4 linked regions of the Homo sapiens genome follow. The protein of the gene in region 1 purifies or fractionates together with the protein of each later gene. This does not show direct contact. Each region holds a gene or a part of one and is shown on either strand. Other genes may lie near its edges.

Region 1 (5,020 bases):
GGAGCCCCAGAGATACAGAAGGAGTAATTTAATACTGAATGATAAAACAAATAAGGGTATGTAATACGCAAGTTCTGCAAGCTTTCAGTAGAAAGTCGGGAACCCTGCAGGCACACTGTGCCTGGCTGGAGGCTGGAGGCTGCAGGCCCAGGCTTCCATGCCCTCTGGCTTTCTCCTTTCTGAGGCTCCCTTGAGGACAGGTGGCTGCTTCCAGCCAGGGCTGCAGTGGCTGCAGGAGCTGCTTTTCTTCTTCCCTGGGTCTTATGGGAGTCTCTGTTCTCTTCCTCCATCTCCAGCCTCTGGTGTCTGCTTGCCTGTTGCCCTTCCTCTCTCTCTTCCACCTTTTCTCTCTCTCTCGGTTGCTGTTTCAGTTGTACGGGGAGTAGATTTTTTCTTTCTTGAGCTTTTCACTGTGGGCTAGAAACTTGGGTGTCAAGGCCTCAGGCTTCTCTAGTTAGGTCCAGCCTGGGCCATGTTTGCCCAAATGTTGGAGAAGGTCTTTCCCCAGGGTCTTCCTTCTTTTGAGGGCCGAGTAGTGCCCTGTGGAGGAGCAGGTTGGACTTGTATTGAGAGTGTAATTAATACAGTTTTTCACATACCTAGTGGGTGGTTGGCTGGGGGCTAACCTTAAATGTGACCCAAATGGGAACAGGTAGGTTTCAGCCCCCTCAACAGCAGTGGGTAGTGGAGGTGCATAGTGGTATCAGGCCGACTCCTAGGAGGCCCCCCCAGTGCAGGTCCAGCATGCAAACTTAGAGACTTGGAAGCAGATCTTGCCAGTACACTGGCCTCTGTCCCTAGGCTCCCCAGCTCCCCTTCCCGGGTCCTTTATGTTTCTCATCTTTCTAAAAAGCACATCTGGCTCCTGTCTCCTCTGCTGAATCATCTCCGGCTTCCAGTAGCCTCGGGTCTGGGCCAGCTCCATGGCACAGCTTGTGAGGCTCCTAGAGACCTGCTGCTACTTCTCTCCCTTCAGATCCTTCTCTCGTTTCCCATATCTGAGCCCTCCATTCCAGTCGCCACGCACCCCTGCATTCGGCCCTGGCCGGCTGTCTCCCGTCGGCCTCTTGCCCTGGTGCCTGCTGGCTTCTTGGTACCTGAGCTGCCTTCCTCCTCCAGCCTCACCCAGCAACAATGTGGCGTCTGTGAGTGCTTCCTTGAGCCTGGGCCTCTCCTCCCTCCCAGGCTGACTTAGGTGCCCCTGTAGGCTTCCTATAGGCTGTTGTTTAATTGTTGTGTTTATCTGTGTCCCCAGTACACGGTGTGTCTTTGGCCTAAATGGAGCCTGGCACGCGGCAATCACGCAGCATGTGCTTGTGGAATGAGTGCGTGAGTCAGTGGGACTCCTGACTGAGGTGTCCTGCACTCTGGATGGCTGTCGGGGATGCTGGAGAAGGAATTTTTGCGTTTGATGGGGCTTGAATCAGATCAGTGGTTTTTTACCCATAATTTTATTATTGTGTTAAAGTCCATAAAACATAAAATTTGCCATCTTAACCATGTTGAAGTGTACACTTCAGTGCTGGTAAATTCATTCATCTGCAGCCATCACCACCTTCCATCTCCAGGACTCTTCTCCTTGCAAAACAGACTCTGTCCCCATGAAACACTAACTTCCTCTTCTCCCGTACCCCAGCCCCTGGCACCCTCCATTCTACTTTCTGTCTCTATGAATCTGACTACTCTAGGGACCTCGGATAAGTGGGGTCATAGAGTGTTTGTCATTTTTTTGACTGGCTTATTTCACTTAATATAATGTTCTCAAGGTTTATCCATGTTGTGGCATGTATCAGAATTTCATCGCTTTTTAGGGCTGAATAATATTCCATTGTAATGGATATACCATATTTTGTTTATCCACTCAACTGTCAATGGTACAGTTTGCTCCCACATTTTAGCTATTATGAATAATACTGCTATGAACATGGGTATACAAATATCTCTTCAAGACCCCGTTTTCTATTTTTTTGGATAAATACCCAGAAGGGGAATTATTGGGTCATATGGTAAATCTGTGCCTAATTTTTTGAGGAGCTGTTATACTATTTTCCATAATGGCTGCATCATTTTACATTTCCACCAACAGTGCATGAGAGCTTCAATTTCTCCTTATCCTTGCCAATGCTTGTGGTTTTGTGTGTTTTTTTTTAGGAGCAGCCATCCTAATGGGTGTGAGGTGGTTAGATAAAATCTTAAGGCACTTATGGCTGGGATTCTATGATCCCATTAGAAGTTTAAGGTATTTGTAGTAGAGTTGCATGGGTCAGCTTTATTAACCTTGAACACACACATTCACATTTGACAGCTTGGGTAGACTTGAACCAGGATTCATTTAGCTTGGGTGGACGCTACTGTTAGTGACCAAAGTGCTGAAAGTAATAGTTATCAAGATATGCTGTGCTTTGTATGTGATAATAACATGTTCAAAAAATATTTTATCCTTTGAATTTCATTGTAGACAGAGAATCTGTCTCATGAGCTATCTTTGAATGGCGATGTTCTATTTGTTACGTGTGCGGATCTCATTTCACCTAACACCTCATTTCCTTCCATTTGGACGACAAGCTCTCTAGTGACGATGCGGTGCGGAGGGTTTTAGCTGGAGAGAAGGGAGAAGTGAAAGGCCGGGCCTCACTGACCTCAAGATCTCAGGAATTGGATAATAAGAATGTGCGAGAAGAAGAGTCCAGAGTTCACAAAAATACAGAGGTGAATTCCAAGTCGCACATCTTTGAAAATGAAATAGTGAGTCTTTTTGTAGTTTAGGTAAAAATATTCATAAATGATTTTATTTTTATTTCGTAGGATAGAGGAGACGCTGAAATAAAAGAGAGAAGTACAAGCAGAGATCGAAAACAGAAGGAAGAATTGAAAGAAGACCGCAAGCCAAGAGAAAAGGACAAGGACAAGGAGAAGGCCAAGGAGAATGGCGGAAACAGACACAGAGAAGGGGAGAGAGAGAGAGCCAAAGCCCGGGCCAGGCCAGACAACGAGCGACAGAAAGACAGAGGCAACAGGGAGCGGGACAGAGACTCCGAGCGCAAGAAGGAGACAGAGAGAAAGAGTGAGGGGGGGAAAGAGAAGGAGAGACTGAGAGACAGGGACCGAGAGCGCGACCGGGACAAAGGGAAGGACAGGGACAGACGGAGAGTGAAAAACGGGGAGCACTCCTGGGACCTGGACAGGGAGAAGAACAGAGAGCATGACAAACCTGAGAAAAAGGTAAAGTCTTGCTGAGAACCTCGCCTTTTGCTTAGCAAGAGTTTGTGGTGGTCTCAAACATGATTTTTACCTTTCTTACAATATGACTAGGAAACTGGTTTTCTTTTATGCCTATTTAAAATGATGACAATCTTGGATTCTCAATAGAAACCCAAAGAGATACTTATTTCTTGTCAGTTGTGTTTTGGGTTTTTTTGTTCATCCCCTAATAGAAGTTTATTGTTCAGCCAATCATTTATTAAGGCATTATTCAGTGAGTTTTTAACCATTTCCTACTTCATGTCCAGGGAGAATTCTGCTGGATTATAAGCTCCCTAAGAGCAAAAGCTAGAGATTTCACTCATGTTCACTGTTGGATGCCCAGTCTGATAGAGTGTCTGACACATAGCAGCTTTGCAGTAAATATTTGGTGGTGGAATGGATTGAGCATCCAGGCAAGGGGTGATGGGCTTTTCAGATCATGAAACACTGGATGGAATTGATCAATTGATGGTGGTTTCTGAGGTCTCCCTTTATGGAATTTTGATCTGGGAGTGGTAGAAGATAATTTGAAGGGGGATGTCAGGAAAATATTAAATGCTTGCTCTTTTTAGGGTTTAATGATTCCCCACCAGGCATGTAGAGAAATCAACGTTTTTCAGAGTTTGAGCTGATTTGCCAAGTTGCTCTTGTCCTTGTCTTGCAGGTGTTTTAAGATGTGTTGCTTCTCCCGTGCGTGTCGTTTGTGTCATTTGTGTCACTCTCAGTATTGCTCTGAAGGCTTTGGAGCAGCCTCCACCTTAGCATTGCAAGCGGTGTTTATGCGCAGTCTGAGTTGTGCATGTGGTGTCTTTAGGAGCATGGACATTGCTCAGTTATTAAGGATTAGGGCTGCTTTCAAGGGCTTTTAGGCATCAGCAGATAAGTACAATAAGACCTGAGTTTACTGTAATTATTGTTTAATTAAATTTTCAGGTAAATTTAGGGTTTGCCAGGAAGTCCTGTTGGTTTCAAACTGTTTTCTCAATGTGTGAATTCTTTCTGGACCCACCATGTGTGTTGGGGACGTTTTCCCAGACACCCAGACACGCATTCTTTGGGGGATGTCAAATTGTAAAGCATCCCGCGAAGATGTTGGAAATCATCTTGTCTCCAGCTGCTAGGAAGGAGGACACTGAGGTCGGGAAGGGATCCAGATCTGCCCAGTTGATCCGGCCGGGCAGTGAGGGGCAGGGCCTGAGCTGGTGCCATGGCCTCTTCCTCCCGGGACAGCCATCTTGTCTTGTGGCACTGCGTCTCAGGGTGTGCCTGCCCAGGGGAGGTGGGTGGGCGCCACAGGACTGACCCTGAGGGAATCCTGTAAACCAGGCTTTCCTGTGGGGGTCAGTATAAGCCCATTTTGTGATCTGTGGGTCACAGTGGGATGGGGGGTGCCTACTGGCAAGACTGTGGTTTTGTTAGTAATTGAACGTAGTGTTCTACAAGGCACTTTGGAGTTTTACTATTTAAAATGTCACTCTTTCCCCCTCCACTGCACATCCTGGAGTAATGTACCCTATGATATGTGTCATACCTGGCTTTCCTTATGAGTCTTAGGAATTACAAAGACATTCCCCATCTTTTGCTCCTTTTTAGAGGTGTAAGAAAAAATATTTTTCATGGACCTGATTTTTCTGAGGCACTAGTATATTCGGGTGTATTTTGCTGTGCATGAGGCATCCTAGGAAGGGGTTAACCTTCCTCAGCTCACAAAGCCTTCGGATTGAGGGTCCCCACGTTATGTTCCCTAAAACTGCTAATGAGGTGACTGGCTTTTTAA
Region 2 (3,500 bases), on another chromosome or scaffold:
TTGAATCAATAGTTTGAATGTTAAAAACCTCTAAATTATAGTTAAAAAGCCTACCCTTCTCAGCTGATTTATAAGAAAAACAGTACGCTGATTATCAGACATTTTTGTACAATGAATCTCTCTTCAAACAAGCAACAAATAATTTGTTTTATATATTAATACTATTTTGTTAAGTAGGTTTCTTGAAGAGCTATTTTTCTCTTGCTCAGTTTTTCCCCTAAAATGAGCATGTACTTACCACCATCAGTCATGCTGCTGCCCTTTTCTTCCATTTCTTGTTTTACCTTTTCTAATTCTTCCATAACCTTTCATGAAAACAAGTTTTCATGAGCATTACATTTTAATAAACTTTCACAATTTTTGAATTATGTGTTAAGAAAATGTAATTTAGATATTAGCCACACATATAGAAAAATAAAGATATTAGGAATATTTTGGACATAATTCAAATAATATAAAGTATGCAGATATACAAAGCTTTTCAGTTTTTCAGAATGCTCCTAATGTTAAACTTCACCAAATGGCTGTCACATCTGTTTTCTCATGTTGCAATATACTAAACACAATCAAAGTTGTTTTAGTCACTAGACACTCAAACCTCGCAATTATCTCATCGCATATACTTTGAAATTCTCTAATAACTGGTTATTAATTAAAATAGTATAAACATCCTGAAGAGATTTTAGATTTCTAAAGCTTTTCTGGGTATCTTTCTTAATATTATAGTTCTATAAGACATTATGTCACTTTTTCCTCTATAGGACACTAAAAAATGTTTATATCATATGGCTATATATAAGAATATTCTTATTGCTTTATCCAAATCATGAACTCCGAACTCCAAGGAGGCATACTTTGCTGTCACACTTGTTCCTATCTGCACTCTATCTGGCGATTATACTACTATAACCTCTATTATTAGCAAAATTCCAAACCAGCATTAATATAAGTAGAAAATACTATCTTTAAGAAATTGAAAATTTTTTACATGATCTACAACTAAGCTATAATTATTGTGACTTAGTAGGCTTTATTTTTATCATACTGGTGAGTAAAACTTTCCCTGGGAATAAAGTGCTCATCCAAGTAAAGCAAATTAATTTTTTCAGGCATCTGAAATGTTACAACTGGGGATAACTATCTACTCCAAAAGAAGTAAATGGTTCCCTGGACTCCCTTCAAGTGTTAATTTACCTAACATAAGTGAACACTTTACTTCTACATACTGTTTTATTTGCTTAGAAGCACCACAGGATTACAGTCTAAATATTTCTGATGTTATATTTTTAGTGTTTTAAAATAACTTTATTCCTCAAATAATCTCTATAAAAGAGGTTTAATTCTTTCCTGTCAAAACAGTAAAGTTTGTTCCAATTATACTGGATTGTAACCAAAGATCATCTTGGATTTTAGTCCCAAATAAACTACTGACCTTTTTTCAAGGTTTTTTCCTCCTTTGGCTCTTCAGTGAAAAATGGGAATATATATCAGGTCCTACCTCTCTTGCAAGATCATAAAAATAAATGCAACTATTTATTTTTATGCAAATATTCTAAAGGAGGAGGTTATAAGCCACTCCCAATTGTGGACAGAGAAATACACCCAGGATCACACACAAATTATCAATAACAGTCACTAAAAATAAACCTTATATCTTGCAGACTAACGTTAAAATTTGTTATAGATTCCTTAAGTCAGTGCTTTACTATTCATCCCCATGTTAATAATAATTATTATGTAAAAAATGTTGAGGAAAATTATAAGTGTGCTAATATTATGAGCAGGTTTTATGTTGAATTTAATACAGAAACTTCAGGCATCCTGTGGAAACAAGAAATGTATCAATTATTGATTCAGTCATAGGAAAATTAGGGATTATCTCCTAAAGAAAATGATTTAAAGGCACAGGAAGCAACTGAAATTAGCAGTGTTAAACCATTTGTAGGTTCTCAATGGCTGGGGCCCAGCTGACAGGTGAGAAGCAGGGCAAGAGCATCAGTGTGTACCTCAGAGAGGAGTCTGGTTCTTTCCGTCACTCCTCCATTTCCCTGCTGGTATCGCTCCTTTGCCTGAGAGGAAAAACATTTTGTTTAATGGCAAATTCAAAGCAGCAGCAGATTAAATACGACTGACCTCTTTGTGTTTGCAATTTCTGCAGGTCATTTTATGACAACCCTGCTCCTTGTTTGTGAATACATTTGTGAAAGTGACATTTAACTGTAGCTGTTTTATGTCCCTAATAGGCAGCATGTATTTAACTAAGTACTACAAAATGATGAACTACCTTAACCTTCACAAACTGACTGTGTACCTCGCATGGGCATGGTTCACAATAAAAACTGTCCTTGGTCATTCCTAAACAGTTTAGGAGAGGGGCTCTTGGTCAATCTAATTTGCATGCTCCGCAGAGAAAGTCCGTTCTAAAACCAAAAATCAATCAAAGTAGAGCATGAAGCTCAATGATGAATAAGGATTAACATCCCGTAAGACAGTACACTCAACTGGAGTATGTCAGAAACTAACAATCAATTATATAATATTAATATTAGACAAATACATGGTGGCTTTGATCAGAGAGTTTTACATCATTTTGATAGTTAAAATATTCATAAGTAATTGTGTATATGAAGGAATAATACATTTAACAAATAACATCAAAAAGTGTAGATTTCTATTTAGTCTTTGAGGACTTCTGAAAGTATAGAAGTATCTCAAATTTACTTCTACTTTTTTCTCTTTCTCAACTTTGTCTGCTGAAGACAAAAAATATGCCTTCAACTGATGTTTGCAACTGTCCTTACTAGCCTTCTTTAACATCAGAAAATAGGGGGCACAAATCCCAAAGGAAAGCTTTTAGATCCCTACTGCTGGGACAAAGAACTGGTGCTTTCAAAGTCTAGTGATTTTATTTTTTGGTTAAAATTCTAAAACTTTGAAAGAATGAAAAATTTGTCTCATTTTATTAATTAAACTGCTTGTCTCTGAATGTATCTTGCTTTCACATTCCTTATTATGTGGTTGTAAGCCAGAATGGCAAGGACTGTCTTTTTCCTTTGACACATGTAAATGCATACTATTCTTCTTCCTCCTACGCCAATGGTAAATTAACAACAGACTTATAGAAGCAAAACCAGGTGTCCTGATACTCTGTTCCTGTTCTAAGCTATGTTCCCCCAACAGCATATGCCTTCATTTACTTAAATCAAATGAAGACGTGCATTTAAAGACTTCCAGGAGAAAACAACTTCTATTACATGTGAAATGGAAATAAGTTCACTCGGCTCTCTTGGCTTCCTAAAGTGGGCAGAAAATTGATGTTTTGCTGTTCATGAAAAGCATTTCATGATTCTCAAATGAACAGTATTGTGTCAAGTTTAGGGTTTAGGGTTGTTAACTTGAATAAATCCTTGGAAATCATTCTTAAATTACCTCACTCAGCTGGGCTTGAGCTGCACGATATTCTTGAACCAAATTCTCAAGCTGATTGTTGATGTACTTTT
Region 3 (3,500 bases), on another chromosome or scaffold:
AGAGGATTCCTCAATTTGCTTCCTACTGACAGCATGAGAGTCTGATCTTATAACGTTCATAAAAGGATAACTCTGTACAAAATATCTAAGGTGAGAAAGAGCAACCTCTTCCTGAAACTCCACAAAAAGCCCTACAATTACCAACATTTTTTTACCTTTATTTCCTCTTTGGATGAGAGCTACTCAACAAGAGCCATAGTGGCAGTTCCAATTAGAGAAGCTGAAAGGATTACAGTATAATACAAAACTCTCCAAAAACAACCCAGAGCTTGGGCTACTCAAGTAAATAGGAATACTGTTCTCAGTGTGGTAGTCTACAAGGTTCTTGGTACCTGTGGGCTCTGTGAGCAGTGCCAAAAGCATCATTGACATAGACATCCCCTAGCTTGGAAAGTGAAGCTCGGAAAGCTTCTATTTTGGCTGGCTCGGCTTTAACCTATAGAGAAAAACAAAAACAGAAAATGTGATGGCTCCAAAGACAACTATAAAAGCATTTCATACACCAAGAGTCCTCTTGAACATCTCTAAAGACCCTGAGTAGGTGGGACAGCGATTTTTTACAACCAGCAGTAGGATGTGTTCTTTCTTCCAAATATTCCAGATACTTTGGTCATTTCTGCATGTTTCTGCTCTCCCTTAACTTCCCTCAAATTGCAAACCTAATATTCCTGAACGATGGCTTTACCTCTAATCACATGAAGTTAACCACACCCCACTAGCCTCTCCCCAGCCTTCAGCTCAAGGTTCTGATTATCCTTCCCTCTCCTTGACTTAGTTCCTCATTTTAAACATTCTCCTTGTGATAGTATCATACTTGACTCAAGCTGCTGGCTACCAAGGCCTTTCTGCGAAGTGCAAGGGGCTCTCACACATATTCCTCATAAAAGCAACAAGGGCAAGCTGGGACAGAGAAGGCAGATGGAAACATGACAACAGAAAAGAACCTCAGAAACACTTCACATTGACAAAAAGGTATTTTATGACCTTCTCTGGAAGCTAGGCATCTGAGAAAACAAGAAATATACTTCTACAAAAAGAGAGGAAGAAAATGTAGAAGTTAAACATAGAGCTTTAAAATGTCAGCTTGCCATCAAGGCATACCCCAAAGGGGACAGAAAGCAAGATGGGAGGATAAGCAAACCAGAGAGTCTCTGGCAGGAGATTAAGCAAAGAGGCACAGGAAGCAAGCCAGATGAAAGGGGACAGGACACAGAAGAGTACATAGCACAAAGCAGATGTTCATTTTAAGTCACTGCCCACTCCTATGCTCCTATGTATCAAGGAGGTGAAGGGGACTGCCATAAAAAATGGGGCTTTTCCCTAAAGATCCAAAGAATTGCAGAGGCACTAATGCTAAAATTGAAGATTGTGGCACTCCCATAAGCTCTGTAGACTACAATAACATCTGCCACTAGTGATTGGAAGATGACACATGTAGTAATGATAACAATGCTCAAATGTAAGGAGACCTGAGTTCTATGTCCAGCTCTGACACTAATTCATTGTGTCACCTTTGGGAAGTTGCTCTGAAATTTTCCCTTCTATCAAAAAGGCATAATAACCCCTCCATTTACGAACTATTTAAGGAGGCCAGGGGCAGTAGCTCACACCTATAATCCCAACACTTTGGGAGGCCAATATGGGAGGATCACTTAAGCCCAGGAGTTCGAGATGAGCCTGGGCAACATAGCAAGACCCCGTCTCTACCAGGAAAAAAAAAAAAAAGTAAAGGTCAGTTGGACATGGTGGTATGTGCCTGTAGTCCTAGCTCCCTACAAGGATGAGGCAGGAGGATCACTTCAGCCCTCAAGTTTGAGGCTGCAATAATTAATGTCATGCCACTGCACTCCACCATGGGCAACAGAACAAGACCCTGTCTCTTTAAAAAGATATTTAAGGAAAAACAGGGTAAATTGAAAGCTCTTCATGAAAAAAGGTGCCATGGAAATAATATCAATCAGAACCCATTTCTCATTTACTGATCTGCAAATAACTAGAAGAAAGAGAAGGCCCTTAAAAGATCAATGTGGGCACTTTGGATAAAGGGAAAATGTTTATGTCCTCATATCCTCACTTTGTTTTTGTGGTTTTTTTGAGACAGAGTCTTGCTCTGTTGCCCAGGCTGGAATGCAGTGCTGCAAACTTGGCTCACTGCAACCTCCACATCCTGGGTTCAAGCAATTCTCCTGCCTCAGCCTCCGGAGTAGCTGGAATTACAGGCACTTGCCACCATGCCCGACTTTTTTGTATTTTTAGTAGAAACAGGGTTTCACCATGTTGGCCAGGCAGGTCTCGAACTCCTGACCTTGTGATCCACCCACCTCGGCCTCCCAAAGCGCTGGGATTACAGGCATGAGGCACCGCACCCAGCCTCACTGTTTTTTTAATCCATTTTGAACTTGGGACTGACTCCTGAAATTTCAGGTATTAAAAGCCATTAGATAGTGAATGTCAAGTCAGTTTACTAAAAAAGTCATAGACTACATAGTCAGCTCATCATTTCCTAAATAAAAAGTTTTGCTTCAATATGCCCTTTGCCTCCTGCCACTTCTAAGCCCTAGAGTTCATGCATCATGAGTTCCAGATTAAAAGGACACCAAATTTTAGGTCAGCATTTGACTCCTAATACTGCAGCAAGACCATGCCAAAAGCAGGATAAGGCAAGACCAGCATCTTTGGTGCTAAAAAAAGAAACTGCTTGAAAGCAGGCACTCCCAATGACCTTAATAAATGTGAGAAGCCAAAGGAGACTGAGACACTAGACTCAGAGCATCTTGTTCTCCGAGATACTAAAGACCAGAATAGTGGAAAGTACTAAAAAATGCCTTCAGCTTCCTTTCTAGTCAATGGGCAAATTCAAAATCATCTGCAAAGAGCCAGTTTTATCATTGAATATTTGAATTCTGGTTGTCAGTTCACAGTAATCTGTTTGGTGAGTTATCTATGGCTGCTTTTGCACAACATCGGCAGAGGTGAGTAGTTCCAACAGAGACTATATGCAGATGGAAGTGACTGCACAACACAGAAAGCCTAAAATATTAACTATCTGGCCATTTATAGAAAAAGTTTGCTGATTGAATGGGCTGAGCTCTAAAGACCAACAGCACCACTGCCTCTAACTTTAATCGTATGACTGCCTTTCAGAAACTTAAGTTTTTTTTTTTTTGAGACTTAGTTTCTTTATGAAATAAGTCGATACCTGTACCTCTATCTTAAAGAGAGATTTAAAGGAACATACTTTACACATCTTAAGAAAATGCCTTAAATCCAAGGTGACATCATCATGACCATCATATTCACTGAATACTCTTTCACCTCAAAGGTGTTCACATATTTTTCAAACATATTTAAACACCACCTGAACATGAAGGAGGGCTTCTGGGATGCTGGTAATATTCTATTCCTTGACCTGGGTGGTGGTTACACAAGTGTGTTTACTTTGAGATAACCCATCAAGCTGTGTCGGCATTGTATGCTTCAATAAAAGGTGTCTAAGTTAA
Region 4 (3,500 bases), on another chromosome or scaffold:
GGTGATCCGCCCATCTCGGCCTTCCAAAGTGCTGGGATTACAGGTGTGAGCCACCATGCCCGGCCAAAGCTGTGTCCTTTGTTACTCTGCCTCCATCCTGACCCCACATGCCGTCCATCCACCCCAGCACTCCCTAAGCTGAGGCTGCCATCATCCCCTGCAGGGATTCTACGAGCCTCCTCTAAAAGCCTCTCTCCCCACCACCCGCCATTGTTGCTTTTATTCTGCACACAGTAGCTAGAGTGATCTTTCTAAAACTACAGCCTCACCACATACAGCTCACCTGCCTGATACCTTCAGGGATGCCGGCTGCCCACAGGATAAGGTTGCCACGTCTGGCTGGCTCTGATGCTAGGCCCTCTTCTCCCCATCCCCCTGCACAGGTTGCCACCATCTCCTCAGCTCTCCTCCCTGGCAGCCAGCACTCCTCTGCACTCCCATCTGCCCAGCCCACTGGCAAGGCGGGAGCTTCTCACCTGCGGCTTGATGTTCACCTTCTCCACGGCGTTCTCGTTGAGCCACTTGACATCGATCTCCACGTCAAAGTGTCCAATGTTACACACAATGGCATCATCCTTCATCTGCTCAAAGTGCCTGTCAGGCAGCCCAAGACCGTGGGAGATTGTCAGGGACAGAAAGCTGTCCCAACTCTGCCCTCCTCCCTCACTCCCCGGGACCCCCCATCTGGCACCTACCGGCCAAGGATGATGTCAATACAGCCTGTGGTGGTGACAAAGATGTTGCCCTCCTGACAGGCCTCATCCATGGTGGTCACCTCATAGCCTGTGCAGAGACAGTGGCTGTGGGTCATCTACGGTGGCCTTGCCCCTCCCTCTGGCCCCAGTGGCTGACAACCAACCCTTGCCCTATCCTACCCTCCATGGCAGCCTGCAGTGCGTTGATGGGGTCAATCTCGGTGATGATGACGCGGGCTCCGAAACCCCGCAGGGCCTGGGCACAGCCCTTGCCCACATCACCATAGCCTGCTACCACCGCTACCTTGCCGGCAATCATCACATCTGTGGCCCGCTTGATGCCATCTATGAGGGACTCCCGGCAGCCATAGAGGTTGTCAAACTTGCTCTGAAAGGAAAGGGGGTAAGGAGACAATAGGGGCAGGCAAGGCCCTGGGGCCAGGACAACTTGGCCTCAGAGTATTCTGAAGAGCCCAGGCATCATGGGCCCACCAAGCATCCCGGCCTGGGCTGAACCCCTCCAGCACCCAATGCCCCCACAAGCCCTTCACCCCGATCGGCTCAAAGAGCTTCTCTCTAATCTTTCTCTGCCAGTGTGGAGCCTTCCTAGGCATCAGTTACTAGGAGAGATTGCCCGGTCAAAGACCTTGCTTAACTTGAAAGCTCTTCTTCCCAAAGCCATAAAGCTCCTAACACCCAGCTCTGACACCCCTTTTAAACGCACTCATTAGCCTGTCTATAACCGCTTTTGCCCCCTCAAATGAGGGCTTCATGTCCCTAATCTCAGCCTTCCTGGGCACTCTTCTTCAGAGGCCTCGTCCTGAGCTGCAGCCACTGTAGCGGGAGCTGTCACTGCCCCTCGGCTCACCTTGGTGACGGAGTCATTGACATTGATGGCAGGCACCTTGAGGATCCCATTGGCCATCATCTTGTAGAGGTTGTGGACCCCAGTCGTGGTCTCCTCAGAGATGCCTCGGATGCCTAAACAAGAGGGGACAGGACAAGCCTCAGAGATGCCACACCTGTGCTCATGCAAATTCCTCATCTTTACCCCCTAAAGCCATTCCTCTTTCTGGGTTCCCATCTCTGTGACTGATCCCACAGGCCCCCCAATCACCCAGACCCGCGTGAGGGAGGAGTCCCCAACGCCCTCCTACAGGGAAGCCACCACCAGGCCTAGTGACTCTGCCTCCGAACAACTCCCAGCTTCTCTATTCTCACTGCCGCTGCTCTAGTCCGTGACCCTGTCGCTTCTTCCCAGTCTCCCTACCACAACCCATCCTCCATGCAGCAGCCATTTCTAACATGTATCTTCTCAGAGAAATCTTCTCAACGCCCTCCAGTTATTTCCCCTTGCTCTGCAAATCAGGTCAAACACTTTTCTATTGGCCTATTAGGCCCTGACACATCTGGTCTTCACGAAGTTCACACCATACCCGCAGTGAAGGCTCCCTTTGCTCACTGCTATCCTGTGGGCCTCTTTTCTGTTTCCTGAACACTCCAGCCATTCCTGCCTCAGGGCCTCTGCACTCTGCGTACCTGCTTTGAACAAAGCTGGCTCCCTCCCAGCTATTCCCAACCATGGCCCTGTCTGTGCCTGCCCTTGGGCCATCAGCTCAGCTGCCCTAGCCTCGCACCCTCAGAAGTCAGGAGGCCCCAGCATGAATGCCAGAGCCTGCCATCCTCCCATCTTCCAGATCCTGCTGCTTGAGGTGATGGGAGTCCTGCCAGGCCTGCGGCCATCATGTGGGCAAACAGGCCCCACCCAGGCCACCAGCACCCAGCCCACCTGCCCCGCCCTGCTCACCTGGCAGAAGCTGCGGGTACTTGGTGTGGATGAGGTTGGTGAGGTCGCCCCCGTCGTCCAGAATCATGTTGAGGGGCCCGTCCTTGAAGTACAGGGTCTGCTCAATGCACCACAGGTACTCCTCGTCCGTTTCGCCCTTCCAGGCATACACTGGAGGGTGAGTGGCACATCAGGGCCTGGACTTCCCAACTGGTACCTGCTCCAGGGAACAACTCTGGCAGAGCCAAAACTACCTCCTTCCCAACTCCCATCCCCAGCCACCTCCGGCCCCTCTGAAAACTCAGCAGTGGTCAGGACACAACTTGGAGCCAGATAGATCTGAGTTCAAACCCTGGCTCTGCCACTTGCCAGCTGTGTGACCTTGGGCAAATCACTTCACCTCTCTGAGCCTCAGTCTTCTCCTCTGTAAATAGGGCTCACAATAGTATGGATTAAGTGAGACAGAAGCCATGTACAGCCCCCCGCCCCAGATATAGATATCAGGAAATCATTCTTTCCTTTCCCATCCCCTTCTGCCTGGGCGCCAAGGACTGAGGCATCAACCCTGAGTGACCAGGGCTTGATACCCCACAACGCCTCCCCCTCAGCAGGATCCACACGGCAGGATCCAGGGTTTGCTCTGCACTGAAAGGACTGGAGCACTAGCAGCCTCTGTGTGGGGGAATCTCAGGCAAAGTCTGGCCAAAAAATGACTACGAGCAGCTACCATGTGTGGGGTACTTGCTTTCTGCCAGACATGACTCTAAATCCTCCATACCCCATCTCATTCTTCCTCATAGAAACCCTGTGAGGCAGCCATGACCATTATCATCACTTACAGATGCCCAGAGAGGAGCTAAGACGCACTTGGGCCACTCTAAATGAAATTCCAGAATAGACACCAGAACTGAGGGCTACTGACCACCAGCCCACACTCCTCCCATGTGGCATGACTAGGGCACAGGTGTGGGGTTCCCAGGAGCCTCTTGTGAGCAAAGGACGCTGGCCAAGCAGAGCCA

Evidence for each region. The genes of interacting proteins can lie anywhere in the genome.
Region 2: the proteins of TRAF3IP1 (region 1) and IFT57 purify together in Homo sapiens (affinity purification with mass spectrometry; 5 studies listed by BioGRID and IntAct, with this or other methods). This does not show direct contact.
Region 3: the proteins of TRAF3IP1 (region 1) and PGK1 purify together in Homo sapiens (affinity purification with mass spectrometry; one study listed by BioGRID and IntAct). This does not show direct contact.
Region 4: the proteins of TRAF3IP1 (region 1) and AHCY purify together in Homo sapiens (affinity purification with mass spectrometry; one study listed by BioGRID and IntAct). This does not show direct contact.

The regions. Positions count from the first base shown.
Region 1 is NC_000002.12:238,326,121-238,331,140, forward strand, and holds part of TRAF3IP1 (TRAF3-interacting protein 1), read left to right. Parts: intron 1-2,565; coding exon 2,566-2,709; intron 2,710-2,805; coding exon 2,806-3,222; intron 3,223-5,020.
Region 2 is NC_000003.12:108,163,425-108,166,924, forward strand, and holds part of IFT57 (intraflagellar transport protein 57 homolog), read right to left. Parts: coding exon 3,430-3,500; intron 2,070-3,429; coding exon 2,007-2,069; intron 306-2,006; coding exon 239-305; intron 1-238. UniProt on the Homo sapiens protein: Required for the formation of cilia. Plays an indirect role in sonic hedgehog signaling, cilia being required for all activity of the hedgehog pathway.
Region 3 is NC_000023.11:78,114,248-78,117,747, reverse strand, and holds part of PGK1 (phosphoglycerate kinase 1), read right to left. Parts: intron 437-3,500; coding exon 333-436; intron 1-332. UniProt on the Homo sapiens protein: Catalyzes one of the two ATP producing reactions in the glycolytic pathway via the reversible conversion of 1,3-diphosphoglycerate to 3-phosphoglycerate.
Region 4 is NC_000020.11:34,289,856-34,293,355, forward strand, and holds part of AHCY (adenosylhomocysteinase), read right to left. Parts: intron 2,653-3,500; coding exon 2,503-2,652; intron 1,677-2,502; coding exon 1,564-1,676; intron 1,084-1,563; coding exon 876-1,083; intron 784-875; coding exon 696-783; intron 595-695; coding exon 477-594; intron 1-476. UniProt on the Homo sapiens protein: Catalyzes the hydrolysis of S-adenosyl-L-homocysteine to form adenosine and homocysteine. Binds copper ions.